Linked DNA regions of Homo sapiens. The protein of the gene in region 3 interacts with the protein of the main gene of each other region in a pairwise test. Each region holds a gene or a part of one and is shown on either strand. Other genes may lie near its edges. The genes, in order: PLEKHF2, CEP72, SPATA24 and PIAS4.

Region 1 (7,018 bases), on a different chromosome or scaffold from region 3:
ACTTGGTATTCAAAGCCCTTCACAGTCAAGTCCTAACCTGCTGCAATCTATCTTTCCAGTTTTACCTCTTTCTCTACATTCTCTGTTATAGTCAAACCAGACTACTAGCTATTACCAGAATATGCTCTGGGCTTCTTTCCCTACCTCTAAGCTCGGCATGTCCTCCCTCCTTTGTTCTTCTCTATTTACTGAAATCTCACCAATTCTTCAAGACACACTCAGTTCGATAGCCTCACAGCCAAATATTGTGGCTGGGTATATCCTGTGGCCAGGTGAATCCTCACACCATTTTATTTGCACCACTTTATAGCACTTATAGTCTATTTGTTTCATAAAAATGTGTGTACTTGCTCATTCCCAACAGATGTGGAGGTTCCTTAAAAAAAGATTATTTCCAGGCCGGGCGCGGTGTCCCACGCCTGTAATCCCAGCACTTTGGGAGGCCGAGGCGGGCGGATCACAAGGTCAGGAGATCGAAACCATCCTGGCTAACATGGTGAAAGCCTGTCTCTACTGAAAATACAAAAAATTAGCCGGGCACGGTAGCGGGCGCCTGGAGTCCCAGCTACTTGGGAGGCTGAGGCAGGAGAATGGCGCGAACCCAGGAGGCGGAGCTTGCAGTGAGCCGAGATAGTGCCACTGCACTCCAGCCTGGGCGACAGAGCGAGACTCCATCTCAAAAAAAAGAAAAAAAAAAAAAAAGATTATTTCCTCCAACTTTGTATTTGCAACAGCACCTAAAAAAAAATGCTTGCATAAATGGCATCAATGTGCCAATGTGCACTGAACTGAATACAATCAGCAGTTAGAAGTGGCAGCAGCTCCCAATCTTGAGTTTGATGAAAATCAAAGACTTCATTTTTAACATCTATATTAATTTTCACAGAAAACAGGAACCACACCCTACCCATCAACTGCTTCACTGGACCCACAGATTTTAAATTTACAAGCAAATGTTGTGGCCCATTTAAGTACAGTATGTAATTAAAAATTCTAAGTATTGAGCAAGGCAGATCCTGTTTTTTAAAAAATTTCAATCTCATGGTAATATATATAAATGATTTCTTTCTCCAAAAAGCACAGCTGTTTAGTTAGTAAATAAAAAATGATGATTACGTGCATATTTTCATCATCACAAAACTCAGATTCAAAAACTCACATCATTTCTAAAAGTATTTGTACAGGGGCAGCTGTACAGTGCTGACAGCTGTAAAGAAAGCATTGGATAATATCTAAAAAATAGCTTGGGCATAATGGCACAAGCCTGTAATCCAGCACTTTGGGAGGCCGTGGCAGGCAGATCCCTTGAGACCAGGAGTTCAAGACCAGCCTGGACAACATGGTGAAACCCCATTTCTACCAAAATTACATAAATTAGCCAGGTGTGGCGGTGTGCACTTGTGGTCCCAGCTACTCGGGAGGCTGAGGCGGGAGGACAGCTTGAGCCTGGGGGGCCAACGCTGCAGTGAATCATGACTGCACCACTGCACTGCAGCCTGGACCACAGAGCCAGAACCTGTCTCAAGAAAAAAATTAATTAATTAAATAATATCTGAAAAATAAACCTGGTAAAGCTCAACTAAAACACTACTGAGGAATTAGTTATCCTGTGACATCCCTGACCAATTTTCTTTAGTATCATTCAAAACAGTTACAACCTGCTCACTACATTCAAGGTTTATGTTTGGTGGAAAAAAAGAACAAAGCAGACACTAGGAAATAAGATATACGCCACAAGGTTAATACAAAACACAAGGAGATAAGTACTATACTAAAAACATTAGCAAAGTAGTAAGGAAGCAAAAAAAGCAAAGAGTGAGGGCATGGCACAGAGAATACAGCATTTGAACACTGAAAACAGGTTGTGAAGAATGAGCGGAATTTAAGAAGGCAAAAAAATGGCTAAATAAAGGCACAAAGCTTTGCAAGTAAAAACGCACATAAAAAGTCACACTGGGCAAGGTGCAGTGGCTCAAGCCTGTAACCCCAACATTTTAGAAGGCCGAGGCAACCAGATCACTTGAGGTCAGGAGTTCGATACCAGCCTGGCCAACAGTGAAACCCCGTCTCTACCAAAAAAAAAAAAAAAACAAAACACAAAAATTAGTCAAGTGTGGTGGCATGCACCTGTAGTCCCAGCTACTTGGGAGGCTGAGGCAAGAGAGTTGCTTGAAACCAGAAGGCAGAGGTTGCAGTGAGCCAAGATCGTGCCACTGCACTCCAGCCTGAACCACAGAGCAAGACTCCCTCTCAAAAGAAAAAAAAAAGTTACACTGTACAGCTGCAGCAGAGGCTGTAGGGGAGTTATTTAGTGGGAAAAGGGGGGAAAAATAACACAAAATCTTGTTAATATCTAAGACTTCCTTCTGAAACTTTTGGAAGGAGTGGCCTGATCTGATCTGGATTTTTCTTAGATAACTATAGAAACAACGAAAGATAAATTGAGAAGGAAGAGACTGAAAACAGGATCCAGTTGAAAAGTAACTGCAAAAATAGAGGGGAAAGTTGATGAAGAGTCTGAAGCTTACAATAGGAAAATAAAGGATAGGTCAGATTCAGAATTGCAGACTGGATATAGAAGAGTAAAGCTAAAATTAATCTCCAGGGTTTTAGTCTAAGTGATTAATTCAAAAGCAAATAAAACCATTAATTTTTAATGAATTTCAAGTAGTCAAACATTTATTATCACTTGCTCTGTGCAAAGCAGTATTAAAGGACAGAAGATACTCAAAACTGAAAACCTCTGAGGAAGAGAAAGACAGCTATATTCTCATATTTATATAGACAAGTATATATAATTCAGTTGTGTTTCTATAGGAAAGATTATCATGGGAGTAACTGACAAAGAAGGAAAAAAACAAAACAAGGAAGGGGTTTGGTATCCCTATAATGTGCTATAAACTGAGGTATACAATTAACTTAAATCTGTGCAAAGTCTAAAACAGCAGAGGAAAAACAAGCCAAAAACTTTTTAACTTAAAACAAACCAAAACAAAACAAAAAAAACAGTGGTAAAGGTCCCAGGGCCAAGGAGTTGAGGTGGGATGTAATTTTGACCAGGTAGAACATCTAGGAACAGGTCTTGTAAGGACCAGAAATTCAAGCTGGGCCTTAAAGCAAAAGTAGTAGCTCAAACTATCTGGGGTTTGGGGATGGATGATGGTACACAAGACTATTCCCCCAGAGAGGAAATAATGGAGCCTAGGCCAGAGGAGGCAAGGTCAGGAGAAGGCATAGTGATAAGAAGTCTGGTAAGATAGGGATGAGACAAACTGCAAAAGAAAGCAACCATCAGATAGAAGAGTTTACACTTTATTACACAGGCCATGGGAAGACAAAGGTTTTTAAATAGGAAAATATTAATCAGACACAGAAGCAGTACACGGGATGGACTGAAGAGAATATGAAGAAGCAAGACTGAAGACAAAGAAACCAGTCATATGAGGATTACAACAATCTCTAAATGAAAGGTAAGAAAAGCCTGAACCACAATAATTGGCAGATAACTGAGGCATAGCAGATAGGATTTAGGAAATAACTGAACACATGGATGAAAAAGGACTGTAAGATGACTTCAAAGGCTTAAGGGTAAGCCACTGGGCAGATGCTAGCTTTGTTTTAGGAGAGAGAAGAAATCAGTTTGGGACATGTTTATCTTGAAGTCCTCCAGGGCATCCACAAGACAAACACATCTGCGGGACAGAGATGCCAGGATGGGCAGGGAGCTCCAGGACAGAGAGATTTGGTAGTCACCCACCTAGAGATGCTGGCTGATGCTGGAAGAAAAACGAGAGCAGAGGACTAAACTTTGGGGAACCCCTAGTTTAGAAAGCAGGAGGAAAATTTAAGGGAAAAAAGAACGGGACACAAAGGAGCACAAAGCACCTTTTCAACCTGCTCTCATATGTTTCACAACTCTCAGAGACTAAATAACCTGCCAAAAGGTCACAATCAGCAGTGGGACACATGGGAAAAAAAAAAAAAAATCAAGGACTAATGGCAATGTGTAACAATAAAATATCTGAAATTTTTACCCACAAAAATTTAACCTGGAGAAATAAACTGGAGAAAGGGGGTGGAGGGGGTGTGGCACATAAAAAGTTTTCCCTCTGGCATTAACTCTAATAGTGAAAAATAAAACCTAAATTTCTAGCTGAGGAATAGTTAAATGTATCACAAAAAGCCATCATAAAAGAAAAAATTTACTACCTAAACTTTTAAAACTTCATAATTGGGGGAAGAACATTAAAGTAATATGGCAAAGGGTCAACATTTATTGATTGATTGACAGGACAGGGTCTTGCTTTGTCACCCAGGCTGGAGTGCAGTGGCACAATCTCAACTCACTGCAACCTCTACCTCCCAGTCTCAAGCGATCCTCCCACCTCAGCCTCCTGAGTAGTTGGGACTATAGGCATGCCACCCTGCCCAACTAATTTTTGTGTATTTTGTAGAGACGGGGTTTTGCCATGTTGCCCAGGCTGGTCTCAAACTCCTGGACTCGAGCAATCTGACCTGCCCATCTTGGCCTCACAAAGGGCTGGGATTACAGGTGTGAGCCACCGCACCCGGCCAACATTTGTAATATGCAAAGGGCTCCTGTAAATCCACAAGAAAAGAGGAAAATATCCCAACAGAAAAATAAGAAACAAATGTCAATTTTAAAAAAATGAAAATGACCAGTAAATTTAAAAAATGACACTCAGTCCCAATCAAATAAAAATTAAAATGATATTCATATATTACTCACCTAAGATGTGGTAAAAATGGACCCTTATATTCTTGACAATACTGTATATACACTGGAACAACTTTTCTAAATGCCATTTTGGCAATAGAAATGCTTTAGAAAGTTTATACAACAATTCTATTTCCAATAATACATACAAAAATTAAAAGTGTACAAAGTTGTTCACATGAAGTTCACTGTAGCTTTGTCTATAATATAGAAAAGCTGGAAACAACCTAAATATTTAACAATAGGAGACTAAATAAATTATGGCACATCCATTAATTTTTAGGCAGTTTTTTAGAAAACACAATATTTAATGTGAAATATTGTTAAAGCATTTTATTAAATAAAAGTTTCTAAATAGCACATATAGTATAAGCCTACTTGTTATTTAAAAGTGGCTGATATGCACCAAAAAGTCAGTAGTGGTTATCTCTAAGCACTAGACTAATAATATTTTGATACGCCTAATTATCTTATAATGAACACATTCTCTCATAGACAAAGCCTTTTAGTTTGGGAAGAAAATACAAAGAAGAATGTGTAGAAAAATATAAGTATAAAAAGTAAAATACAGTTATATGTACAAGTAATAAAAATGTGAGCAAAGAACACAAAAATCTTTCTTTTTCCCCAACTGTTGTTTAAATGAAACAAGTACAAAGAATTAAAAATAGTTCCACTTCTGAAAAAGGGGCGGGGGGGGGGGGAAGATGAAGAAGTTGGTGCAAAGAAGAAAATAGAAAATTCACATCATAAAATCTTAATCATTTTAGAAGGAAGTAAGGTCATCTGCTCAACATGTTTCGAGACTGGGGTTAGCAACCTGACTGGAGTGAAAAAGCAACAGAGAAAATAAGTCAACTTGGGGATAAGAAAAGGATTAGAAAGTAACTAGTATAAAGCAGGTAGAAAACAAGTATGTAATGATCACCAAAAGCGTGACTTTGGGGGAGAGTGTAGGGCAGGGACAAAGGTAGAAAACTGACCAGTTACACCCAGCAAAGGTCAAGGAGAGGAGGGACTATGTGGTCTAGTGAGTTCATGGTTAGAACATGAACTACAGAGTTCAAGGTTGAAAAGAGGGAAGACAACTAATGGCCTAGGAGGGACTGGAGGTGACAATAAGGACAAAAAGCTGCTTAACCAGTTATGACAGAAAAGAGAAAGAGAAAACAGACCCTTGCATCGCCATCTGGCCACAGGGTTTAAGACCTGAGGTAGAGTGGTTCTGAATGATGACAAGTAACATGGTCACAACATGCAGGCTGCTGTTGTAGAGTAGCAGTGGGGGTCACCGGAGTTAGTGAAGTGTAGTTCCAAATGTGGCCATTCTGGCCAGAAATGAATGTAACCCTTACTTAACCTCTATGCACTTCACTTTCCTCAGCTGCAAATATTTAATACATCCTTTCTAGCCTGACTGATAGGAATCTGGCTGGCAGCTAACCCCTCTGCATTTTACTCAACTACAAAATGAAAAGCATAAGAAAGGAGATGGGAAATTGAGTTAAATCAAAGGTTCTCCACCTGACTGAACACTAAAATCGGGGATGTTTTAACAAAGAGGCAAAATTACCTTTGTTCTGTCCCCAAACCCAGTAATTCTGATTTATTTGTCCTGGGGTGGGATCCAGGCAATATTCTTTTTAAGTAGCTCTTCAGGAGATTTTAATGTGCAGCCAAGGCTGAAAACTGAACTAGGTATTCCTACAGGCTGCTTCCCTTTAAAAATTTTTAAATTCTATGATTCTATATAATTCACTGCCACTCTGTTCATTTGTTAAAATAATAGCTACTATCGTATTCCAGGCCCTTCCACAAACATCGAATCTTGGGTGACCCTCACGCTAACACTGAGGCAAATATTTCTGTGCCCATTTCACAAATGAGTCCAGTGAAGCTTACAGAAGTGAAGCGGCTTGTTCAAGAGTCACAAGCCAGCAAGGAGCTGAGTCAGGACAAGGTTTATTTGTTCCAGTCCATCCTACATGCAACTTGCTTTCTTTCCAGTGCATTCACAGCAACTATTTGAATGCCTTTTATTCTCTTCTCAGGACCTCCCTAAATTGAGCACATTAGTTTGTGGTTTACAGTTTGACAGGGGAGAAAGTTATCTTGGGTGGGGGCAGGAAATAAACCCCGAATTCTATAGGCATTATAGAATTACAAAACACCTTAACCTAGAGAGGTTTTCCAACTTAAAACAGCACTGTGAAAGTGTATCCATGAAGTATTTTTTATTCAGTTAAGTCAACACATACATTGCTTTTAAATATTAAGCAG
Region 2 (7,446 bases), about 140 Mb from region 3:
TGTGGGTGGGTGTGTACGTGAGTGTGCATGTGCACGTACACCTGTGTATGTATGCGTGTGAGGTGTGTGAACTGTGAGTGTGCTGTGGCTGTGAGCGTGTGCACACGTGAACTGAGCGTGACAGTGCGAATGTGTGTGCCGCGAATTCCACTGGCCACATGAATGCAGGCGAGGCCGCTCCGCTAGGCTGTGGATTTCCAGCATGGCCACGCTGGTTGCCTGTGTTGTCTTGTTGACACAGGATGGAGAAAGAACGATGCAGGATGCATCTCTGAGCCTGGCTCAGGCACCCAGAGGGAGCTGGGTTTGGGAGCAGCTGCTCTGCGTAGCCCTGGCTTGGATGCTGCGAGCCAGGTGGGCCTGGGGTGAGCGCTCGTCCCTGGGGTGGGTGGAGGCCCCCATTTCCCTCTCAAGTCCCCTCACTGTACATCACAGCCTCCTCCCACCCCCGCTCTGTTTAGAGAAAGCCCAGAGGCCCCTCAGGCTGAACCTCCAGCCCTCTTCTCTGACCATGTGGGTCTCCCTGTTTCCTTCCGCTGGCCTGGTCTCTGTAGGGCTCACTGAGCCTGCAGTCTGGGACCCACAGGCTTGAGGATTGAGGCTCGGGGCCTGGGAGCCTCCCTGGGATGTTCTAGAAAGCTATGGATGGGGCACCTGTCAGGGAGACAGCACACGGAGAGCCTCTCCCACCTGGGTCCTACCATAGCGGCCTGGGCCTGTGGGCTTAAAGAGCCGCTCCGGAATTTAACTGGGCCTGAGGGCTGGTGCCCTGTGAGGAACCCGGGATAGAACCTGGGGACAGAGGCCTCCATTAGTCCTTGGGAGCGGCAGGTAGCCCATGGGGTCACTGTGATCCCGGCACATTGTGGGAGCGTGCGCTGGGATGGGGAGGGGTCACTGTGAGCACGGTGCGTCGTGGGAGCGTGCGCTGGGATGGGGAGGGGTCATCGTGATGATGGCACAGCACACTCTCCTGTGGTCTAGGTTTAGGGATGCCAGTGAGACCCGCTGAAGCGTTGGGGCCCTACCCGAGGTGAGGCGTGCCCAGGTCTGGGGACTCCTGTCTTGGGGCCCCTCCCAGGAGAACCACCCCCCTCCTCTGGCAGGAAGCCCCCAAAGCTGTGGAGGAGCCCTGGGCCCACAGACAGCATCCCTGCTGCTGGGGACCCCAGGCCTGTGCGGGTGCCGCTGCCATGGGGCTGATGGGGCCCAGCCCAGCAGCCCCTGCCTTTGCTTTCCCGGCTTCTCTGCGGCTCTGTGCTTTTGCTGCCCCATTCCAGGCCGGAAGGCTCCCGCGCCTCCATGGATCTTCATGATTTGGCCAACCAGAGTGAGCACCGTGAGGAAGTGGAGACAGACACAACTTTCAGCAGCAGAAGACAGGATAATAAAGTTGGGTTTGGTTTATGATCTAACGTGACCATTAAAAGTGTTTAATAAACAACGTTAAAGACTACTTAGTGGCAGATGCATCCGGCAATGCTTAGCATAGCCTCATGACTGTCAATACGCACAGGCTTGAAAAACACCTGCAGGATACATGTGGGCATGTTAGTGTGGGTTATCTCAGCAGGGCGGCATATCGAATCTCGGTGCCCTTCTGTAGTGTCTATATTTTCTACAGTGAAGCTGGGATACTTTGGTGAGCAGAGGCATTGTTTTCAAAGTTCCCATTGGTACTTCCATCACATCCCCGTGTGGTTCTGTCCTGGACCGGCTGCCCACTGAGGTCCCACTCGCCCCTACCCTGCCCTGTCTGGCCAGCTGGGTACCTGCCCAGGAGGAAGAGGCTCAGTGTTTGGGGCCTGTGTTATGCCCTGAAAAGCCACTGCTGTTGGGTGAGGGCCCATGAGGCCTTCAGTTTGCCATCGTCATGTGCTTCTGAAGAGCCAGGATGCTGTCCACTGTTTGTCTCCTGGCGGGACAGAATTCCACTCAGTGCATATCAGGGGCAGTGATGGGGCTGGGGGTGTGAGGGCTCAGCTGTGCCCTGAACTCCTTCACAGTCTTGCAGGAGGGGTCATGGAGCCATATCTGGGTTTGCAATTTTTGGAAAGTTACGTGACGATCTGCACTCAGGAATGCTGAGTGTTCGGCAGGCCCCATGAACAGTGATCAAATGTGACGCTGTGTGTCCCACAGCCTAAGGGCTGTGGCAGAGACCAGGAGGGCCATCAGCTCCCACAGCTTTCGAGTCCACCTCAGGGCTCCTCCTTGCTGACCTCCCTGGGTTGTCAGTGGAGACAGCCACCCTCCCACAGAGCACCTGCCTGAAATGGGCCAGGCCGCCCCTGTGCCCTGGCTCTTGCTGCACATGCTGAGGTCAGCACGGAGGCGCCCTCGGGCACCAGCATGCCCTCGGGTTTGCAGCTTGTCAAATATCCCATGAAGGCAACCTGACCAAATGTGCTCTAACACCACTGGACCAATGGAACGTCTTGGGCTGAACAGATGCAGCCTTGCATCCACCGCCTGCCACCACCCTCTGTGTACACCCCCTGCACACACCTCTGCACACACCCCCCCTGCACACTGTTGCACATACCCCCTGCACACAGCCTGTGTACACTCCCTGCACAGATCCCCTGCACACAACTCCCTCACACATCCTCTGCACAAACCCTGTGTATACCCCCTGCACACACCTCTACACATACCTTCACACACCATGTATACCTCCTGCACACACCTCTGCACACACCTCCTGCACACACCTTGTGTACACTCCCTGCACACTGTTGCACACACCCCCTGCACATAGCCTCTGCACACAGCCTGTGTACACTCCCTGCACAGATCCCCTGCACACACCTCCCACACACATCCTCTGCACAAACCCTGTGTATACCTCCTGCACACACATCTACACACACCTCCTGCACACACCTTGTGTACACCCCCTGCACACTGTTGCACACACCTCCTGCACACACCTCCTGCACACACTGTTGCACACACCCCCACACATAGCCCCTACACACACCTCTGCACATACTGTTGCACACACCCCCACACATAGCTCCTGCACACACCTCCTGCACACACCTCCTGCACACACTGTTGCACACACCCCCACACATAGACCCTGCACACACCTCCTGCACACACTGTTGCACACACCCCTTGCACATACACCCTGTATATACCCCCTGCATACTCCTTATGTACAGCACTGCACATACTCCCTGCAGAGACCCTGTGTGCATCCTCTGCACACACCCCTTCTGTATACTGTCTGCACACACCCCCTACATGTACACCCTCTGCACACTCCTCCTGCATACACCCCATGTACACCTTCTGCACACACTCCCTGAACACATTCTGAGTACACCTCCTGCACACCCCGTGTACAACCTCTGCACACACCCCCTACACACTCCCCTACACACTCCCCTACACCATCCACACACACTCCCTGCACACAGCCCCTGCACACATTCCCCATGTACACCCTCTGTCTGTGTATACCCTCGTCTACTACCACCATACGTACCCCCCACCACTACCCTGCCTTGTCTATCACCCCCCAGGCTGTGACATACCAGGGATGTTGCCAACGAGCTGGTCTAATCTGGGGTGAGGGTTTCTGGGTGCCCCTAGACACCAGGAGAAAGGCGGGGAGGGGACACCCCTGGGGGTCTGGATTCACTCCACCAGGCGCTGGGCCACAGTGGTACGGTGACACAGTAGATGTCTTGAGCAGGATTAAAGTCTTCCCAATAAACAGGCTGAACTCTGTCTTCCTTGAAAGCTCTGTAGAAGGACCTCACAAGGATAAACACAGCGAGACCCTCCAGGGCGCGGTCAGCCACGAGCCACAGTGCTGGGCCTGTGACATCTCTGGAGGTTCTGGGGTGGAGAAGGACCGGCCGTGGGGAGTGACTGGCTGGGGAGAAGCTCAGCTCCCGCCCACCTCTGGGAGGCCCGGGGCTGGACGGGAGGTGCAGCAGACAAGGCTCCGGGCGGGTGCTGGGGTGTCTGGAGGGGTCCCCGCGGGGGGGTCGGGTTGGGTGGGGAGTCTAGGTGAGTCGGGGGTCCCCGGGGGCGCTGGGTTCAGGGTGGGAGCGGAGTGTGGATGGGGCAGGGTCCCCATGCCCACCACCAGCCGCGATTCCACCGCGCCTACTCGGGGTTTCCCCGGGAGGACACCGCGTGTGTCAAGGGCCGGGGCCTAGAAGGCGGCCGCGCCCAGGGAAGCCTTGACAGGGAGCTATCTGGGGCGGGGGCTGGGGTCGCGTGGCCAGTACCTGGGAGAACCGCCATTCAGGAGAACCCCCCGCCAGGCTCTTGGTTCCGCCCACGCAGTCCCGCCCCCTCCCCCAGCCACGCCCCTCGCCCCGCCGCGCAGGCCCCGCCCCGTCCCGCCAGGCTCTCGGTTCTGCCGACGCAGGTCCCGCCCCTCTCGTAGCCTCGCCCCGCCCGCCGCGCAGGCGCCGTCCGAGGGCTCCGTTTGAAACATGGCGCGGGCTGGCCCTCGGCTGGTGCTGAGCGAGGAGGCGGTTCGGGCGAAGAGCGGCTTAGGGCCTCACCGCGACCTGGGTGCGCCGGAGGGCGGGCGGGGGTGCAAGCGTGAGGTGGCGGGGGGGTGGGTGCCGAGCTTCCCGGGGCGGCGGCGGACCGTGGGCAGGCGGGACCCGTCTACGCAGGCGCCGCGGGCGTCCGGAACGGTCGCGGGCGAGCGGGGCGCGCGTGTCCAGGTGAGCGACCCACCCCCCGTGCCCAGGTGCGGCCCCTGCCCGCGTTCGGGTCCCGGCGTCCCGGCCCCTGCCTGTCTATCGGGTCACTGGTTCCGTGACTGGGGGTTACATCCGCTGAGAAGAGGGAGCCGGCCTTGCTGTCCAGGAGCGCAGCCCGCCCTCCCGCTGGGGATCACCTCCCTGGTTCTCCTGGGCCCACTCTGTGGTGATTGTTGCGCTCGGCCTTCTTGAGGATGTTGGTGGCCGGTTTCCTTCTTTTTGGCTTATTTTTGTCTGGTTTTGGCGTCAAGGTGAAGCCGAGCTCATAAACTGCTGAGAAGTGTTGCCTTCTCTTATATTTAGAAGAGGTTCTGTAGAGTGTGTGCTCATTGTTTGAATGTTTCCTGGAATTTTCCAGTGAAACCATATGGACATGTCAATTTCTGTTTTTGAAGCTTTTAAATGACAAATTCTGTATCTCTGGTTGTTAGAGAACCGTTCATATTAGTTCACCGCGAGTCTTGGCTGTGTGGGGTTTTGTGGCATTGGCTTATTTGAGCTAACTTGTGGAGTGTGTGTGTTGAGTTGTTTCTGGTGTTCTGTTGTTAGCCTGTTAATGTCTGTGTGTGGTCTGCAGGTGTTACTGGACCAACAGGTTCAGTCAGGTGCTGTGGGGGCCACAGGCCAATACACTGAGACAGTGGGGTTTGCAGCAGAGAAAGAGTTTAAGGCTGGCAGGGGCCCAGCAGGGAGGTGGAAGGAGGCCTCAATCCATCTCCCCAAGGAGATCTGAGCGGTTTTTTTTTTTTAGACGGAGTCTCACTCTGTCGTCCAGGTTGGAGTGCAGTGGCACAATCTCAGCTCACTGCAACCTCCACCTCCCAGGTTCAAGTGATTCACTCAGCCTCCTGAGTAGCTGGGATTACAAGCACGCGCCACCATGCCCGGCTAATTTTTTATATTTTTAGTAGAGACGGGGTTTCACCATGTTGGCCAGGCTGGTCTTGAACTCCTGATCTCAGGTGATCCACCTGCCTTGGCCTCCCAAAGTGCTGGGATTACAGGCATGAGCCACCTACACCCAGCCTGAGCTGGGGGTTTTAGAGGAACAGGACTGTGAGGAGCTGGAAGATTGGTGTTGTCAGTTGGTGGAGGTAAGGGCCATGGAATTATCAGGGTGTGGAAACTGCATTCTTTGGTGAATCCGCTTGCGGGGCCCTTTAGACCAGCTGGCATCAGTCCCCAGGTCCTGAAAGAATATCTCAAATGGAAAACTTAACGGTTTATAATGTCCAGGTTATTATCTGTAGAGTGGTTAAGGGGAACTGTAACCTCGTGACAAAATCCAAGTGATCCTGAGGCAGTAGGCACCACAGGGCTCTGAGGAAGCAGGTGAGAGGGCAGCTGACCTCGGGACATGCCGAGTCCTCCCTTCTTCCCTGATTAGTGCTACAAGGTTTACAGGGATATCCCTTTTCTGTTCCTGATGTTGATAATCTGTGTATTCTTTCTTTTTTAGTCTTGCTAGAGGCTTGTGAATGTTATTGATAGTTTCAAAGAACCGACTTTGGGTTTGATTTTTCTCCAGTGTTTTTCTAGTTTCAAATTTCATTGATTTCTGCTTTTTTTTATTTCCTTCTTTCTGCTTGCTTTGCATTTATTTTATACTTTTCTAAATCCTTGAGGCAAAACTGTAGATTATTGATTTGAGACTTTCCTATTTTCTATTATAAACAGTGCCACAAGTTTCCCTGTAAGCACTGCTTTAGCTGTATCCACAAATTTTGTTATGTTGTATTTTAATTTTCATCCAGTTCAGCGTATTTTAAGAATTTCCCTCGATACTTCCTGTTTGACCTGTGAATTTTTTTTTTTTTTTTTTTTTTGAGGTGGAGTCTCGCTCTGTCACCCAGGCTGGAGTGCAGTGACGCAATCTTGGCTCATTGAAAGCTCTGCCTCCTGGGTTCATGCCATTCTCCTGCCTCAGCCTCCCGAGTAGCTGGAACTCCTGACCTCATGATCCGCCCACCTCGGCCTCCCAAAGTGCTGGGATTACAGGCATGATCCACCGCGCCCGGCCTGACCTGTGGATTTTTAAGGAGTATGTTTTTAACGTTCCATGTGTGGATATTTTCCTGTTATTTTTCTGTGTGATTCCATTATGGCCAGAACATAATCTGTATGATTTTAATTCTTTTAAATTTGTCAGGGTTTGTTTTATGATCCAGCATCTGGTCTATGTTGTTGAATGTTCCAGGTGCACTTGAGTGTGTGTGTATTCTGTTGTTGAGTGGAGTGTTATGTAAATACATAAATATCAATTAGATCCTGTTGGTTGGTGATATTGTTCAGTTCTTCTGTATCCTTGCTGATTTTCTGTCTAGTGACTCTATTAATGACTGAGAGAGGGGTCTGGAACCCTTAACTGTAATTGTGGATTTGTCTGTTTTTTTTTTCACTTTGTATGTTTTGAAGCTCTGTTTGTTGAATTACATAGCTAGGATTTTTATACCTTCTTAGTGGACTGACCCTTTTAGTATATGTAGTCTTCCTCTTTTTTTTTTTTTTTTTTGAGACAGAGTTTCCTTCTTGTCCCCCAGGCTGGAGTGCAGTGGCACGATCTTGGGTCACTGCAACCTCTGCCTCCCGGGTTCACATGATTCCTCTGCTTCAGCTTCCCGAGTAGCTGGGATTACAGGCGCCTGCCATCACGCCTGCCTAATTTTTGTATTTTTAGTAGAGACGGGGTTTCACCATGTTGGCCAGG
Region 3 (7,893 bases):
ATGGAGGTTGCAGTGAGCCGTGTGCCACCGCACTCCAACCTAGGCAACAGAGCAAGACTCCATCTCAAAAAAAATAAAACAACTTGGTTTCACTGGGCATGGTGGCTCACACCTGTAGTCCCAGCTACTTGAGAGGCTGAGGTGGGTGAATCACTTGAGCCCAGGCATTTGAGACCAGCCTGGGCAGCATAGTGACACCCAGTCTTAGAAAAATAAAAATAACTCTTAGTTTCCATTTTAAAGATCTGGCAATCCTAGCCCCCTGTCACCACATGCATCCTTCCCTATTGAGTCCTGACCCTGAGACTAAGGATCAGGTCCCAAATAGGACAGTGCTTGCCCTGTGTTCCTCTTGTATCAGTTAGGAGTAACCCATCAAAAGTGGGAAAACAAAAGGTGGACTAAGAAGGTTGTATGTTTCAGGAAAAATGGGAGCAAGCCCATTCCTTTATGGCGGTGAAGAATATAGTACACCGACTGCTTCCCTCATTTCCGTGGCCTGCCTGGTCCCTTAAGGCCTTTTCGAAGGTGTGGCCCACCCGGGCCTGCCTGTATCCTCAGCTGGGGACAGGTGTTAGAGTGAAACCCTGCCTTTGACACAGGCACTGGGTGGTTAGGAAAGAGCCCGTTTATATAACCGTGGTGGAGAGCACGGGCCTCCCGCCTACCATTGCACTTGGTGATGAGCTGGTCCTTCTTGCTGGACTCCTGAAGGACTTTGCTCTTGACACTGGAGAGCCTGGGTGGGGAAGATAAGATGGGAGGGTGGGCAGGCTAGCAAGCAGATGCATCCCCCAAACCCCACACCCCGTACTGAGGCCCACTCACGCTTTTTCAAAGGCCAGCTTCTCTTTCTCCAGCTGCTTGGATAGCACCTCTACCTCTCCGAGGGCAAACTGTAACTTCTCCTCTTCCTTGGCCAGGAGGACCTTGGTTTTGGCATGGGCAGCTTTCTCTTCCTGCAGGGGCAGCAGCAGTCACCTCATTACCCTAGGCCGCCTTGGGTCTCCTAGACTCCCTTAACCAGCCCCCCTTCTCAGAGGGACACACAGAAGCCAGAGCACAGGGAGATTCTGGCCACCTTGCTACAGGGGCTGGAGGTTCTCAGAGGCCGACCTTTCTTTTTTCTTTTTTCTTTTTTTTTTTAGACAGAGTCTCACTCTGTTGCACAGGCTGGAGTGCAGTGGCATGATCTCAGCTCAGTGCAACCTCCACCTCCTGGGTTCAAGCCAATTCTCCTGTCTCAGCCTCCCAAGTAGCTGGGATTACAGGCGCCTGCCACCACGCATGCTTGGCTAATATATATATATGTATATATATATTTTTTTGTATTTTTAGTAGAGACAGGGTTTCACCATGTTGGCCAGGCTGGTCTCGAACTCCTGACCTCAAGTGATTTGCCCGCCTTGGCCTCCCAAAGAGCTGGGACTACAGTTGTGAGCCACTGCACCCATCAGAGGCTAATACTTAATGAGCCTGCCTAACCACAGGGATCCTGGGAAACGGGGGAAGATTAGGAGACCGCAGAGGCCATTACTTACCACCAGCTTCTTCTCCACTGCCTGGAACTCTTCTTTACTGACAAAATTTTCGTCCTGGAGAACCATCTGCAACAGAGCCTGGCTGAGGGAGGGCCTGGGGCTGGAGTAGAAGGGGCGCCCTCTAGGGACCAGGACCAAAAGCGGATAACAGGATGATGCTCGTGGTACCTAGGATGAGACTGAGGCCTTGGGAAGGGAGAATTCAGTTCCACAGATAAACTGAGACTCAGCTCTAAGTGCTGCCCTCAAGGAGCAGCCAGTCTCATGGAGGAGGCAGTCCACAGTTAGCACTTCTAACATGTTGTGTGCCTTGATGGGGAGACATAAGGGGATCTGGGGCTCAGAGGAGGCCCCAACCCAGCCTGGGGAAGGGTCAGAATCACTTCCGGAGAAGGGGATGTTAGACCTGAGATCTGACTGCTATATAGGGTGGGCCAGAAGAGGGATAGAGAGAAAAGCACTCTGGATGGTGGGGACACACATGCCAAGGTCAGCTGCCAAGAGGAAGACCTGGGTACCTTCAGGGAATCAAAGGCAATTCAGTGCCTAGAGCTCCATATATTTTGTTGAATGAGAGCATTAGGGTAGCAAATAGGACAGGTCTCTCTCCCCTTTCCCCCACATTCAACTTCCCAGAAGGGAAGAAATTGTCTAAGAACAACTTAGAATGAGAAGTAGATGTGAAGCCAGTTTTATTTCTGAGATGGAGATACATCCTAACCTTCTTATCAAGACAGGAAAACAAAACCAGAAAAACCATGAACTCCAGATGGCCAGGATTCTATCATGCCTACCCAGGTAATCTGTGACTGCAATGCTTTGCACCCATTAGCTGGGGTTTGATTGAGAAGGCAAAAGCTAAGGCATGTAAAGTTCTTGGAGGCCCCTAAGTTAGCGCTGGCAAGGGCCAAATCTGCGCTTACTGCATTCAACACGGCACTGCCTTTGACTCTCGGGAATGGTGTCCATAATAGAAGGGATGACAGTTTCTCTGCCTGCACAGGAGGGCCATGGGAACTCAGTGACGTCATCTCCACTGAAAATGGGGAAACTGAGGCTCAGGGACTCTCTACCAGCTCTTGCAGCAACCAGGCAAACGGAAGGGAGAATATGGCTTGATTTTAGTTAAAATTCCCTGGTTCAGGAAGGTCCGCCCCTTTTTGGCTCCACCCCTACCGACTGAGCCCGGCCTCCTCCTGATGACGCCATGGGCCATGCGTTCTAGCCACGGCCCCCGCATCGGAACAGGTTCTGGCCCCGCCCCCACCAGTGAGGCATCCGGCCCCGCCTCTCCCCAAACTCCTCTGGCTGCATACCACGTTCCTCAGCTGGTGGATTAGTTCCTCCTGAGACTCAATCACGTCCCGCAGTTGATCTAAAGCGAGACACACAGATCCTGACCCCGCCTTCGACCACCCGAGGGGCGTCGCCATCTTCCGCCCCCGCCAGCTAGTTGGAAATGGCTGCCTCGGGGGTGATCCTCGCCGTCGCCCACCAATGAGAATGCGACGCCACAGAGCACCCTGGCAACGGGGGGCGGGGACTTCCTATGTTAGCGGGGCGAGGGGCCGCCTCTTAAAGGAGCCGCCTGGAGCGGGGAAACTGCTGACAACCCTTAAGGCATTTAAGTTTACAGGAAATTGCGCTTTTATTGCGTCTTCTGTTTCTCACGCAGTCCTGAGAAGCCGGCAGGGCCCGGCTTGTACTTTCCTTGCCTGCGAGCAGGCAACACTCAAAACAGCAGCCCTCAGCCTTCACCCAGGGCCTGTTAAACTGCATGACCACGAAGCAAGAGCCAGCATAGGCAACTCCTGCATCTTTAGCTTCTCATGCCTCTTTCTCCAAATCTTTATCCTAATCTCCAAATTTCCTCCATTGTATGAGATTCCAGCCTCCTGGAACACACTTAGTACTTAGGGGTCCTAAGCCTAAGCACGGAAGATAGACGAAGATAAAAAATGAGAATGGCTACACCTGAGATCAAAGTCTTCATACTCTGATACCAGGCTCTGGGCACTAGAGTCTGCACTAGAGTCATGTGCCACCACCCGAGGAGGAGGACCCTGAAGAGATTAGGAGGACTGAAGAGGGCTTGAAGGAGGAGAGTTTAGTAAAATGAAGTCAGGGAAGGATACGGTGATTACGCACACTCACCAAGTCTCTATTGAAGGCTTTTTTTTTTTTCTTGGAAACCCAAATAAGATTAGGTTTGGAGAACATCAGAGCGAATATATATTGTGTTCACTATTTCGTGGCACCGTTATGTTTATATTATTTCATGTGACCCTCATGGAACTCCTATCAGCCCCTTTTTACCTAGGCTCTATGAGAATGAGAATGAATAACTTGCCCAAGGTCACTCTAGTAAGTTGTGGAACGGAGTTCTGCTATGGGCAGTTTGGTTCCAGGGTCCGTGTTTTTGTTTGTTTGTTTTTTGAGATGTAGTCTCGCTCTGTCGCCCAGGCTGGAGTGCAGGGACGTGATCTCGGCTCACTGCAAACTTCACCTTCCGGGTTTAAGGGATTCTTCTGCCTCAGCCTCCCAAGTAGCTGGGATTACAGGCGCCCGCCACCACGCCTGGCTAATTTTCTTATTTTTAGTAGATACGGGGTTTCACCATGTTGGCCAGGCTGGTCTCGAACTCCTGACCTCAGGTGATCCGCCTGCCTCGGCCTCCCAAAGTGCTGGGATTACAGGCATGAGCCACCGCGCTGGGCCTGGAGTTCATGTTCTTAACCAGGATGTTGTGCTGCATTTGTGTTGCACGTCATGGGTGGAAGTTATGGAATTTGATACCCCCAAGTAGGAAATGACTATACTAACAAGGAGTTTGGAAAAAAAGTTACCAGTGACTATGAAAGGAGGCAGAAAGCTCAGGGTAAGTCATTCAAGCCGCTCCCCAAAACCCCCCGGGGGGCCTGACAAACTTGGCCATCCCTGTGGTTCTCTCAGCGGGAGCCCTTGTTTTGTTTCTTGCGTTTATTTTCATGGACTTGGAGACAAGGCCATCTCTGCTGACCTCTCTCTCTTTTTTTTTTTTTTTTTTTTTGAGACGGAGTCTTGCTCTGATGCCCAGGGTGGAGTGCAGTGGTGCGATCTTGGCTCACTGCAAGCTCTGCCCCAACCGGGGTTCACACCATTCTCCTGCTTCAGCTTCCCGAACAGCTGGGACTACAGGCGCCCGCCACCATGCCCGGCTAATTTTTTGTATTTTTAGTAGAGATAGGGTTTCACCATGTTCTCTTTTTTTTTTCTTTTTTTCTTTTCTTTTTTTTTTGAGATGGAGTCTTGCTCTGTCGCCCAGGCTGGAGTGCAGTGGAGCAATCTTGGCTCACTGCAACCTCTGCCTCCCAGGTTTGAGCGATTCTCCCAACTCAGCCTCCCCAGTAGCTGGGATTACAGGCAGCTGCTATCATACCCAGGTGATTTTTTTGTATTTTTGTAGAGACGGGGCTTCACCATGTTGGCTAGGCTGGTCTCGAACTCCTGACCTCAGGTGATCGGCCAACCTTAGCCTCCCACAGTGCTGGGATTATAGGCGTGAGCCACTGTGCCCGGCCGACCTCTGTTAAAGGGCCTAGAACAATACAGTTCAATAGAACTTCTAGTGATGAAAATGTTCTACAGCTGCACTATTCAATAGCCACTAGCCACATGTGGCTCTTCAGCAGTTGAAACGTAGCTCATGTGACTGAGAAATTGCTTTAAATTTTTTATTATTTTCTGAAGATCACCTTAATCATGGCTCTTTAAAATTTTTAAATTTTTAGTTTAAATGGCCATGTGTGGCTACTGGCTACTGTACTGGAAAGTGTGTGCCTAGAGGGCACTGTGTAGGTTGTGTGCCTCAGCACAGACCCTCTCAGAACTTGGTGTACCAAATGTGAATGTTCACCTGAATCACCCTTCACAAAGCTGCACATTCTTCTGGGGCAGTGATTCCTGAGCCTTCCCCAAGAACTGCACTTCCTCCCTAGGATCTTTCATGAGGCACTGCTTGATGTCCCTTGATATCCAACATCCACCTTCACCAGCTGGAACAGGCTGCTCTCTGCGTACTTGGGGCAAAACCCTGGAGAGCAGTAGGCTCCAGCAGCCACCTGGGGGTGGAAGCTTATGAACAAGAGAGAACCCTGGATCCAGGTCTGCACCTGCTTCCTGGCATGGACATGAGGGGTGGTCACCCTGGTTGGGCACTGCCACAGACTCCTCTATATGTTGAAAGGCACTTTGGGCTCCTGGTCAACCAGGACTCAGTGAGACTCAGGATGACATGACATCACAAACAGCTCTGTGATCCTGCCAGGGAAGGGTTGCCTTTCTGCACAGGCTTGTCATTTTGGCTGATGTTCTGGTTATCTATTGGTGCATAATAAACCACCCCCCAATTTTTTTAAGTCATTGAAAAAAATCATTTTGTTCATGAATCTGGAATTTGGCAAGGCTCAATGGTGAAAGCTTATCTCTGCTCCATGCAGTGTGAACTGGGATGGTTCAACGGGGAGTTAGAAGTTCCAGTTCCAACATGGCTCACTCACGTGACTGGCAAGTTGGTGCTGTCAGCTGGGAGCTCTGCTAGGGCTGAGGACCAAAGGTCTTGGTTCCTCTCCATAGGCTGCCTGGACTTTCTGATAGCATGAAGACTGGGTTAAAGATAATCATTCAAAGTGACAGAAAATGGAAGATGCCAGTTTCTTAAGGCCTGGGCCTGATACCTGGCATAGTGTCATTTTTGCTGTATTCTATTGGTCAAGGAGTCAGAGTCTAGATTCCAGAGGAGGACACACAGATTCCTCCCCCTACCCCACCACCTTTCAATGGGAGTAGTGTCAAAGAATTTGGGCTGCACTTCTAGAGCAAATCCTTATGACAGATGGGGCACCACTCCCTTCAAGGTTCATTTCAGGTAAAACCAGTCAGGAACTTAGTCTAGTGGGAAAAGTCAGACAATAATCAAACAACCAGATAAATCTAAAGAGAAACTTAGCCAGGTGGGGCTAAGATTCTGTGCAAGGGAAAGCTTCTGTGAGGAAGTGATGTTTGAGCTGAAGCCTATTAAGGTAACTAGGAAGCACTTAGCAAAGAGGGTAGGGGCAGATGAGTAGGTAGGGATACCAGAAAGAGGAAGCAGTGTATACTTTGTGTATACAAAGTCCCTGGGGCAAAAGGGGCTGGTAGAGTGTAGTAATTAAAGGGTAGCATGGCATAAAAGAAAAAGATTATAGGGCAAGAGGGGGCTTGGGTAGTGGGTAGAGACCAAGAACTTGGCAGAGCCTTGCTAAGCAAGGTAGGCCATGCTAAGGATTTTGGTGATTTTTATTTTAGGGACAAAAGAAAGCTACTGAAATATTTTAAGCAAGAGGATGACGTGATCCAATTTATGCTTGGAAAAGATCTCTTTGGTTGCAGTGAGGTATACAGATTGGAGTGGGGCTGTGTAAGTGCACAGAGACCACTTTAACCGAGAAGGCTACTGCAGTGAAAGTGGATGGTAGTTTGAGAGTCAGATAGTGTCAGAGATGAGAGTAGGTTTAGGATATTCTGGAGGTAAAATTGATGGAACTTAACAGAGAGAGGGAATAAGGGAATATGGGGACAAGGAAAAGGTGTTTTGGCTGTCTATTGCTAAAAACCACCATAAAATGTAATGGCTTCAAACAGCAACTTTTTTTTTTTTTTTTTAAAGACAGAGTCTTACACTGTCGCCCAGGCTGGAGCGCAGTGGCGCGATCCCAGCTCACTGCAACCTCCGCCTCCTGGCCTCAAGCAATCCTCCCACCTTAACCTTCCTAGTAGCTGGAACTGTAGGTGTGCAGCTAATTTTTATATTTTTCGGTAGAGACAGGGTTTCATCACGTTGCCCAGGCTGGTCTTGAACTCCTGGGCTCAAGCCATCTGCCTGGCTCAGCATCCTAAAGTGTTGGGATTACAGGCATGAGCCACTGCACCTGCAAAAAAATGGCTGCAATCATTTTATTATTTGCTCACAATTCTGCAGACTGAGCAGGACTTGGTGGGGCAGCACATTTCTGCTCTGCCCATCATCTGGGGTAACACAAATGGCTCAACTTGAATTATGTGTTTGGGTCCTCAGTTCTTGCTGTCAGCTTGGTTGCTGGGTTCTCTTCTGCATGGCTTCTCCTTTGGTTAGTGTAGTGGTCTCAGGTAGTTGAATTTACATGGTAGCTGGCTTCCCTCCAAGTACAAAAATGGAAGCTGCCAGTTTTGCCACATTCTGTTGGTTAAAGGTCAAAGGCCAGCCCCGATTAGAAAAGGGACTACACAAAGGCATAAATATTAGGGGATGCCAAATTAAGTCTACCACACAAAGTTTCCTGGGTTTTTGACTTTT
Region 4 (7,960 bases), on a different chromosome or scaffold from region 3:
AGGACACCCATCGTGTAGGTGAGGAAACCGAGGCTCACAGAGGGAAGAGGCTGGCCCAGAGCCTCCCTAGTACATGCGTGGGACTGGCATCGGCCCCTCGGCCTCTGGCCTCCCAAGGGTGTTCCCGTCTGCTGCCCGGGGGACCCTCACTCACCAGCACACTGGCTATGGGGACCTGCATGGTCTGCTGGGCCTGAGAGTCAGGGATGCTTTGAAAACAAAAATGCCTCATCTCCCTTGGCCTGACTTCCTACCTTGTGCAGAAAACAAAAAGGCTTGCAGACAAGATGTTTCTTCTGGAAGTGGCCCAAAGCCTTAGCAGGGAGAGACGATGTCATGTGGACACTTCACACTGGCAGACTGGCCGAAGGCAGGTGGGCTGGGGAACCTGCTGACATCCTCGCACCCCGGGAGCCCCTGCCCCACCCAGGCTGGACAGTGGAGCCGCAGCTCCCGCTTCCCGGAGCACACCCCTTAGGTGGCCATATGTTCACGACTCAGATTTCCCAGCAGCTGCCACCTCGGAGGAGCCTGCCCTTGACACTGGAGGGAGTGCGGGGGGGACAAGCATTCAGGAAGAAGCCCCAAATGCCCCAAGATCACTTCCTGCCCTGGCTTCAAGCTGACCTGCTTGCCGTCAGAGCTGTGTTTATAAACAGTGCCAGGCCCCGGCAGCTTCCAGAGTTTCAACTCCAGGCTTGCCTGGAAGTCGCATGGGGAGACATCAGCCGAGACACAGCAGCTGCGCTGAACCTTTCCTCCAGCATAGGCCCCTCAGAGCACCGGGGGTAGCTCAGGAAGGCGCCTCTCTCCAGGAAAGCGGAGATCTGTGCGAAACGCTGTGGACTATTTCAGGGAGCTCACAGACACCCCTGCCCCAAACCCGCCTGCAGGCCTCAAGCTGAGAGTCTCAGATTTCAAAGTTCACCAACAAACCCCCAACATTCGCCCCTCCGAGCAGTCTGTGATGCACCCCAAAAGACAGAATCTGCAGCCATGAATATGACAGGCTGGGGAAGGCCCCTGTAAAGAAGGGGATGTTTCAATGACATTTAAGGTACTTGGAGAGGTAGCAACAGACTCAAGGAGAAAGAAGGTTCCCCAGGGTCCAGGCCCCCTTGAATGGAGGCTCACGGTTTAGAGAACCTGAAAGAAGGGTCAACTTGATTTAATTGGGGTGGGGGGGGGCCCAGCCACCAGAGGGTTAAGGAAAGTTCATCAGATCATATTTCAAGGCCTGGATGGTACAAAAGAGTGCAGACCCTGCCCTCAGCCAGGGTGGGGGTTGGGGTCCAGGGTCACAGCTCCAAGCCCCGAAACGGGAGGTTACATTTCAGGACTCCAGGACACTTCAAGCCCAGAGCCTGCCACTTTGGGTTTACAGAGTTCAGGCCTCCACATCTCCAGGGCGAGTCTCCACTTTTCAAAACTCTAGAGAGGAGCAGAAGTGTGCGCAGGGGTGTAGGGTTGGGAGGCGAAGAGAGGTATATGCTATAATCACAGAGCCCTGAGTGCTGTGTTTTCAGATCCCAGGGGGTAATGTGAGAGGACCGAGAAGAAGATACGTACAGGTCAGGACCGTGGGGAGGGAAGATGTGAAAGGGGATGGGGGAGGGAGAGGTCCCCTAACCTCCCCGGAAGCCGTGGCCTTGCGGGCACTTCTAAGGGTTTTAGACCCTCAGCTCTAGGTAGGCACCTACAAGAAGGTACATCCCCTGGAATGGGGATACTCTGAGCTCAATCCCAGGATGATTAAAAGTGGTTCCAAGCTAGGAGATGGTATCTATGGGACATGGGACCTGGACAGGACCCAAAGTATAATAGAGCAGCAGCAACAGTTGTTCTAAAGAGGCCAGCCTTGGACCCAGTGGGGACCCTCCAGAGATCAACAAAAGAGAATAGGCAGAAAGAGAGGGGACCTTAGAAACCAAAGTTGGGGTGCATAAAAGTTCTGGGGGCTGTGTAGGGGGAGGGTGGGTGTCTGACCTAAGAAGTAGACTCGCTCAAGAGCAGAAAATAGGAGAAGCAGCCAAGGTTTGAGGACAGTATCTGATGCTGCACAGGTGAGGTTTAGAGCCCCCTGAAGCAGAATCAGTAGCCTCAGATTCTGTCCCGAGAGGAACGAGGTAGGACCAAAGCACAGTCCAGGATTTAAGATTAAAAAAAGGAGAATAAAGAAGGTCTGTGACCAAGAAGAGTGGTCCGAACTCCATCCTATGGGGAGGGAAAGGGAGGGCCCAGCCTTCCCCCAAGCGCCCACTCCGGCGTGTGAGAGACGGTGTCGGGAAGGGGGCGGGGTTCTGGGACCAATGCAGGAGCTGAAGAGGGGCTCAAGACCGAGCCTGAACTCCAGACCCCAAGAGGACGTGCCGTGTCTTGGGGGTGGTCTCAGGGCCCTGACTCCTCCACCTGGACGGTGGCAGGACACTATCCAGGACTCGGGGGACCCTTCCGAGCAGGAGACTCGCAAACCCCAGCCTGGCCTGTTGGGCGGGGACGAGACCCAGATAGCAGTCCTGGGAGCCCTGTGGGCGGGGAGGCGCAGACACTCCCCCCAACACACCAGCCAAAAAGCAAGGACCCCGGCTCGGAACCAAGAGGGCAACGAGTAGCTCAACACGTCCCGCATCCCGGCGGGACGGTGCCTCAACCGGGAGGCGCGGCCCTGGCCTGGCGCTCAGGGACCGGGACCCTAAGGGCTCGGGCTGGGTGGGGGGACCCTGCCTGAAGCCGGGGGAGCGACCCCCGGCGCGAAGACCTGGGTGAGGCAGGAGGGCCCCGCCCCCGGCCTCCCCGCCCCCCGCCCTCACCCTGAGACCGGGGGTCGGGGTCTGGGGGCCGGGACGGCGAGCCGCGGGCCGGCCGCGCTGTGGGGCCCCGGACAGAAGGCGCAGACCTCGACCTGCGGCCCGGCCCCCGCCCTCTCGCCCACTTGCCCCGGCCGGCGCCGCCACCGCTCACTCACTTTGGCCTCCACCAGCTCCGCCGCCATCTTGGTCACCAGCGTCCCCCGCGCCGGGAGCCCCCAGCCGTCGCGTCACGTGACCGCTCACCACTCGCGGGCGGGGCCGCCGCCCGGGCCAATTAGCACCCGCGCGCGCTCCTCCCGCCGCCGGTGCGCGCTGCTGCCTCCTGCGCAGGCGCGCGCGGCCACCGCCCGGGCCTCCGGCCAATCAGGTCCGTCCTACACCAGCGCCCCCCCCCCCGCTCGCGGCGACCACGCCTACCCCGGCGGCGCCTGACTCCTTAAAGTGGTACTAGCCCTGCGCAGGTGGGGACGGGTGCTCGGTTTCCTCTAGGGAGGGAAGGCGAGAGGGGGCGGTGGCAGCGACAACAATGCAGCTAGGTGCCGTGGCTTCCTGCGCGCGGCGGCCGCCAGGTGCGTCTCCAGACTCCCGGCGGCGTCGGGCAGGGGATGGTTGCTCCGCCGCAACGGCCGCCAGTGCGTACAGTGAGGCGCCTTGCAGCGCAGCGCGGTGCAGGCTCCACGGGCCCAGACACCCCGCGCGCTGCACATCCGGGTCCTGGTGTGCAGATGGGGCGTGGGCTCGGCAACCAGCTGGCTGGGGGCGCCCGGCGGAGAAAAGCGGGACCCCTGCTCCCAAATTCCTTGGAGATCGTACAGCCCTCACCTCTTTGCAGGCGCCCCCCCCATCCTGCCTCCCCACCCATGGGAAACCTTGGATCTGCACCAGTTGGGACCTCTTCTCCAAAGCGCTCCTTGGCTTTGGAGCTAAGTGGCTTCGTGCCCGTAGAAGTGGATTTCAAACTTCAATAATCAAGTATTTTAGTGCAATTTATTTTTTATTTTTATTTTTGTAGAGACGAGGATCTCATTATGTTATCCAGGGTGGTCTCGAATGTCTGGGCTTAAATGATCCTTCTGTCTGGGCCTCCCACAGTGCTGGGATTACAGGCGCGAGTCACCACACCTGGCTAGTCCAACACTTTAAACATAAAAAAATCAGTGCAAAAGAGTCCATGATGGATGAAATACCAAATTGTTATTTATTTATTTATTTTCGAGACGGAGTTTTACTCTTGTTGCCCAGGCTGGAGTGCAATGGCGCGATCTCAGCTCACTGCAACCTCCATCTCCCGGGTTCAAGGGATTCTCCTGCCTCAGCCTCCCAAGTAGGTGGGATTACAGGCGACTGCCACCACGCCCAGCTAATTTTTTTTTTGGCCAGGCTTTTCTGCAACCCCTGACCTCAAGTGATCTGCCCGCTTCAACCTCCCAAAGTACTAGGATTACAGGCATGAGCCATCATGCCCAGCCTTTTTTTTTTTTTTTTTTGAGAGCCTTGCTGTGTTGCCCAGGCTGGAGTGCAATGGAGCGATCTCCACTCACTGCAACCTCTGCCTCCTGGGTTCAAGCGATTCCCCTGCCTCAGCCTCCCGAGTAGCTGGGATTACAGGTATGCACCACCATACCCAGCTAATTTTTTTTTTTTTAGACGGAGTCTTGCTTTGTCACCAGGCTGGAGTGCAGTGGCGCCAGGCTGGAGTGCAGTGGCGCAATTTCGGCTCAGTGCATCCTCTGCCTCCCGGGTTCAAGTGATTCTCCTGCCTCAGCCTCCCGAGTAGCTGGGACTACAGGTGGGCACCACCACGCTCAGCTGATTTTTGTATTTTTAGTAGAGATGGAGTTTCACTGTGTTGGTCAGGTTGGTCTATGAACTCCTGACCTCAGGTGATCCACCGGCCTCGGCCTCGCAAAGTGCTGGGATCATGGGTGTTAGCCACCGCACCCGGCCTGAAATACCAAAATTTTAAGTAAAGAGCCAGACGTAGGAGTGTGCGCCTGTGGTCCCAGCTACTTAGGAGGCTGAGGCAGGAGGATCGCTTGAGCCCAGGAGTTGGAGGCTGCAGTGAGCTTTGATCATGCCACTACACTCCAGCCTGGGCGACAAAATTATAGGAGGCGGTTGTTTTAGACTAAACTCTTGTGCTAGGCACCAAGACACAGGAATAAACAAAATGCAGCTAGTCACACTCAGATTCTAAGTCACAATGACGAAGCTAAGTTGTTATCTGACCTTTGGGAAAACCAGGAGGGAGCCCTATCAGCCCATTTTCTCTTTTATTTTATTTTCTCTCTTTCTTTCTCTCTCTCTCTCTCTCTCTCTCTCCCTTTCTTTCCAGGAGGAGTCTCACATTTGTCGCCTAGGCTGGAATGCAATGGCGCAATCTCGGCTCACTGCAACCTCTGCCTTCCAGGTTCAAGCGATTCTCCTGCCTCAGCCTCCTGAGTAGCTGGAATTACAGGTGCCCGCCACCACACCCGGCTAATTTTTTTGTATTTTTAGTAGAGACGGGGTTTCGCCATGTTGGCCAGACTAGTCGAGAACTACTGACCTTAGATGATCCGGCCAACCAATTTTCCAAACAGGCCAGTTTCAGCCTTCAGTGGCCAATGTCCTAAAATTCCCTCTGCTTAATTTCTTTAATCCTTACACAAAAAAACTAGCCTGGCCGGGTGTGGTGGCTCACGCCTGTAATCCCAGCACTTTGGGAGGCCAGGGCGGGTGGATCACGAGGTCAGGAGATCGAGACCACCCTGGCTAACACGGTGAAACCCCGTCTCTACTAAAAATACAAAAAATTAGCCGGGCTTGGTGGCGGGCGCCTCTAGTCCCAGCTACTTGGGAGGCTGAGGCAGGAGAATGGCATGAACACGGAAGTCGGAGCTTGCAGTGAGCCGAGATCGCGCCACTGCACTCCAGCCTAGGCGACAGAGGGAGACTCCGTCTCAAAAAAAAAAAAAAAAAAAAAAACTAGCCTGAAACAACCTGATGGTAACACTAATGAGTTAACACATTCTTTGCTGTTGGGTTTTTGTTGTTGTTGTTGCTGTTGGTTTTGAGATAGGTTTCTGTCTCCCAGGTTGTTGTGCAGTGGCTCAGTCATGGCTCACTACAGCCTCAACCGCCCGGGCTCAGGTGATCTTCCCACCTCAGCCTCCTGAGTAGCTGGGACTACAGGTGCACACCACCACGCCTGGCTAATTCTTGTATTTTTTGTCGAGATGGGGTTTTGCCAAGTTGCCCAGGCTGCTCTCAAACTTCCGAGTTCGGGGATCCTCCCAAAGTGCTGGGATTACAGACATGAGCCACCCCGCCCAGCCTGTTCTTTGATTTTGCTCTCTACAACCCCTCTCTTCCTGTAGAGCCAACCTCCTCTGCCCAACTGATTGGAACAGTTATCCTATTTTATGGAATGAAGTGTAGCAAATTGCAATGAAGCCGGTTAAGGTCCTTAGATTTGTTGAAATGTTGTCCATTGACAGCAAAACCCCAGCTCTGCCATTGCACGTATGAGTCTTACCTTCATTCCGGCCCTGCTGATTCTGCGGGGGATTGGGTTTTTTTGTTTTTGTTTTGTTTTGTTTTGTTTTAGACAGGGTCTTGCTCTGTCACCCAGGCTGGAGTGTGGTGGTGCCAATCTCGACTCACCGCAACCTCGGCCTCTCAGGTTCAACTGATTCTTGTGCTTCAGCCTCCCGAATAGCTGGGATTACAGGTGTGTGCCACCATACCTGGCTCATTTTTGTAATTTTATTTAATTTATTAATTTTCTTGAGACAGGGTCTCTCTCTGTCACTCAGGCTGGAGTGCAGTGGTGGGATCTTGGCTCACTTCAACCTCCACCTATCAGGATCAAGTGATTCTCCTGCCTCAGCCTCCCGGGCAGTGGGGACTACAGGTGCACATCATCACACCGGCTAATTTTTGGTATTTTTAGTAGAGACGAGGTTTGACCGTGTTGGCCAGGCTGGTCTCGAACTCCTGACCTTAAGGGATCTGCCAGCCTCAGCCTCCCAAAGTGCTGGGATTACAGGTGTGAGCCACCACACCTGGCCAGGTTTTGTTTTTAAGTATAATTTGTATTTGTTTTGGTGAAGATTCAGATTCACAAGAAGTTGCAAAAATAGTACAGAGAGATTTGTGCACCTTTCTCCCAGCTTTCCCCAGTGATAGTATTTTTATAACTGGCTGGGCTCCATGGCTCACACCTGTAATCCCTGCACTTTGGGAGGCCAAGGCGGGCGGGTCAACTGAGGTCAGGAGTTTGAGACCAGCCTGGCCAACATGGTGAAACTCCTGTCTCTACTAAAAATACAAAAATTAGCTGGGCATGGTGGCGGGAGCCTGTAAGCTCAGCTACTCAGGAGGCTGAGGCAGGAGAATCGCTTGACCCCAGGAGACAGAGGTTGCAATGAGCCGAGATTGTGCCATCACACTCCAGCCCAGACAACAAGAGCAACGCTCCATGTAAAACAAACAAACAAACAAAAAGCTTGAACCCAGGAGGCGGAGGTTGCAGTTAACTGAGATTGCGCCATTGCACTCCAGCCTGGGTGACAGAGCGAGACTCCATCTCAAAAAAAAAAAAAAAAAAAAGATTCAAAAAAAGTTTTACATAGCCATGTTATGTTGTCAAAACCTGGGCGTTGATGTTAGTATAATGGAATCAACTCGAGTGCAGACATTATTTCGATTGCACCCGTTTTTACATGTACCTTCCTCTGTGTGTGTTTGGTTCTATTATTTATTATTATTATTTTTTGAGACAGAGTCTCTATTGCCGAGTTTGGAGTGCAGTGGCGCGATCTCAGCTCACTACAACCTCCGCTTCCCAGGTTCAAGCAATTCTCGTGCCTCAGCCTCCTGAGTAGCTGCGATTACAGGCGGGCGCCACCACACTCAGCTAATTTTGGTATTTTTAGTAGAGACGGGGTGTCGCCATGTTGCCCAGGCTGGTCTTGAACTCCTGACCTTAAATGATCCACCTGCCTCAATCTCCCAAAAGTGCTGAGATTACAGGCATGAGACAGCGTGCTTGGCAGTTGAGAGAAATTTTGTCTCACTTGTAGATTCCTGCAACCCTTGTGGTTTGAAGGTTCTGTGTAATCATGGTACTGTGTCTGTGTTTTAAAATATGTTTTGGGCTGGGTGCC

The links.
Region 1: the proteins of SPATA24 (region 3) and PLEKHF2 interact in binary tests that used the Homo sapiens proteins (3 or more experiments, as listed by UniProt).
Region 2: the proteins of SPATA24 (region 3) and CEP72 interact in binary tests that used the Homo sapiens proteins (3 or more experiments, as listed by UniProt).
Region 4: the proteins of SPATA24 (region 3) and PIAS4 interact in binary tests that used the Homo sapiens proteins (3 or more experiments, as listed by UniProt).

The regions. Positions count from the first base shown.
Region 1 is NC_000008.11:95,136,778-95,143,795, reverse strand, and holds part of PLEKHF2 (pleckstrin homology domain-containing family F member 2), read right to left. Parts: intron 1-7,018. UniProt on the Homo sapiens protein: May play a role in early endosome fusion upstream of RAB5, hence regulating receptor trafficking and fluid-phase transport. Enhances cellular sensitivity to TNF-induced apoptosis.
Region 2 is NC_000005.10:607,902-615,347, forward strand, and holds the start of CEP72 (centrosomal protein of 72 kDa), read left to right. Parts: upstream 1-4,438; 5' UTR 4,439-4,460; coding exon 4,461-4,542; exon of another isoform or gene 4,543-4,700; intron 4,701-6,651; exon of another isoform or gene 6,652-6,780; intron 6,781-7,446. UniProt on the Homo sapiens protein: Involved in the recruitment of key centrosomal proteins to the centrosome.
Region 3 is NC_000005.10:139,401,087-139,408,979, forward strand, and holds the start of SPATA24 (spermatogenesis-associated protein 24), read right to left. Parts: upstream 3,004-7,893; 5' UTR 2,975-3,003; coding exon 2,858-2,974; intron 1,663-2,857; exon of another isoform or gene 1,608-1,662; coding exon 1,542-1,607; intron 960-1,541; coding exon 829-959; intron 740-828; coding exon 669-739; intron 1-668. UniProt on the Homo sapiens protein: Binds DNA with high affinity but does not bind to TATA boxes. Synergises with GMNN and TBP in activation of TATA box-containing promoters and with GMNN and TBPL1 in activation of the NF1 TATA-less promoter.
Region 4 is NC_000019.10:4,002,793-4,010,752, reverse strand, and holds the start of PIAS4 (E3 SUMO-protein ligase PIAS4), read right to left. Parts: upstream 3,018-7,960; 5' UTR 2,993-3,017; coding exon 2,966-2,992; intron 806-2,965; exon of another isoform or gene 339-805; coding exon of another isoform or gene 255-338; intron 1-254.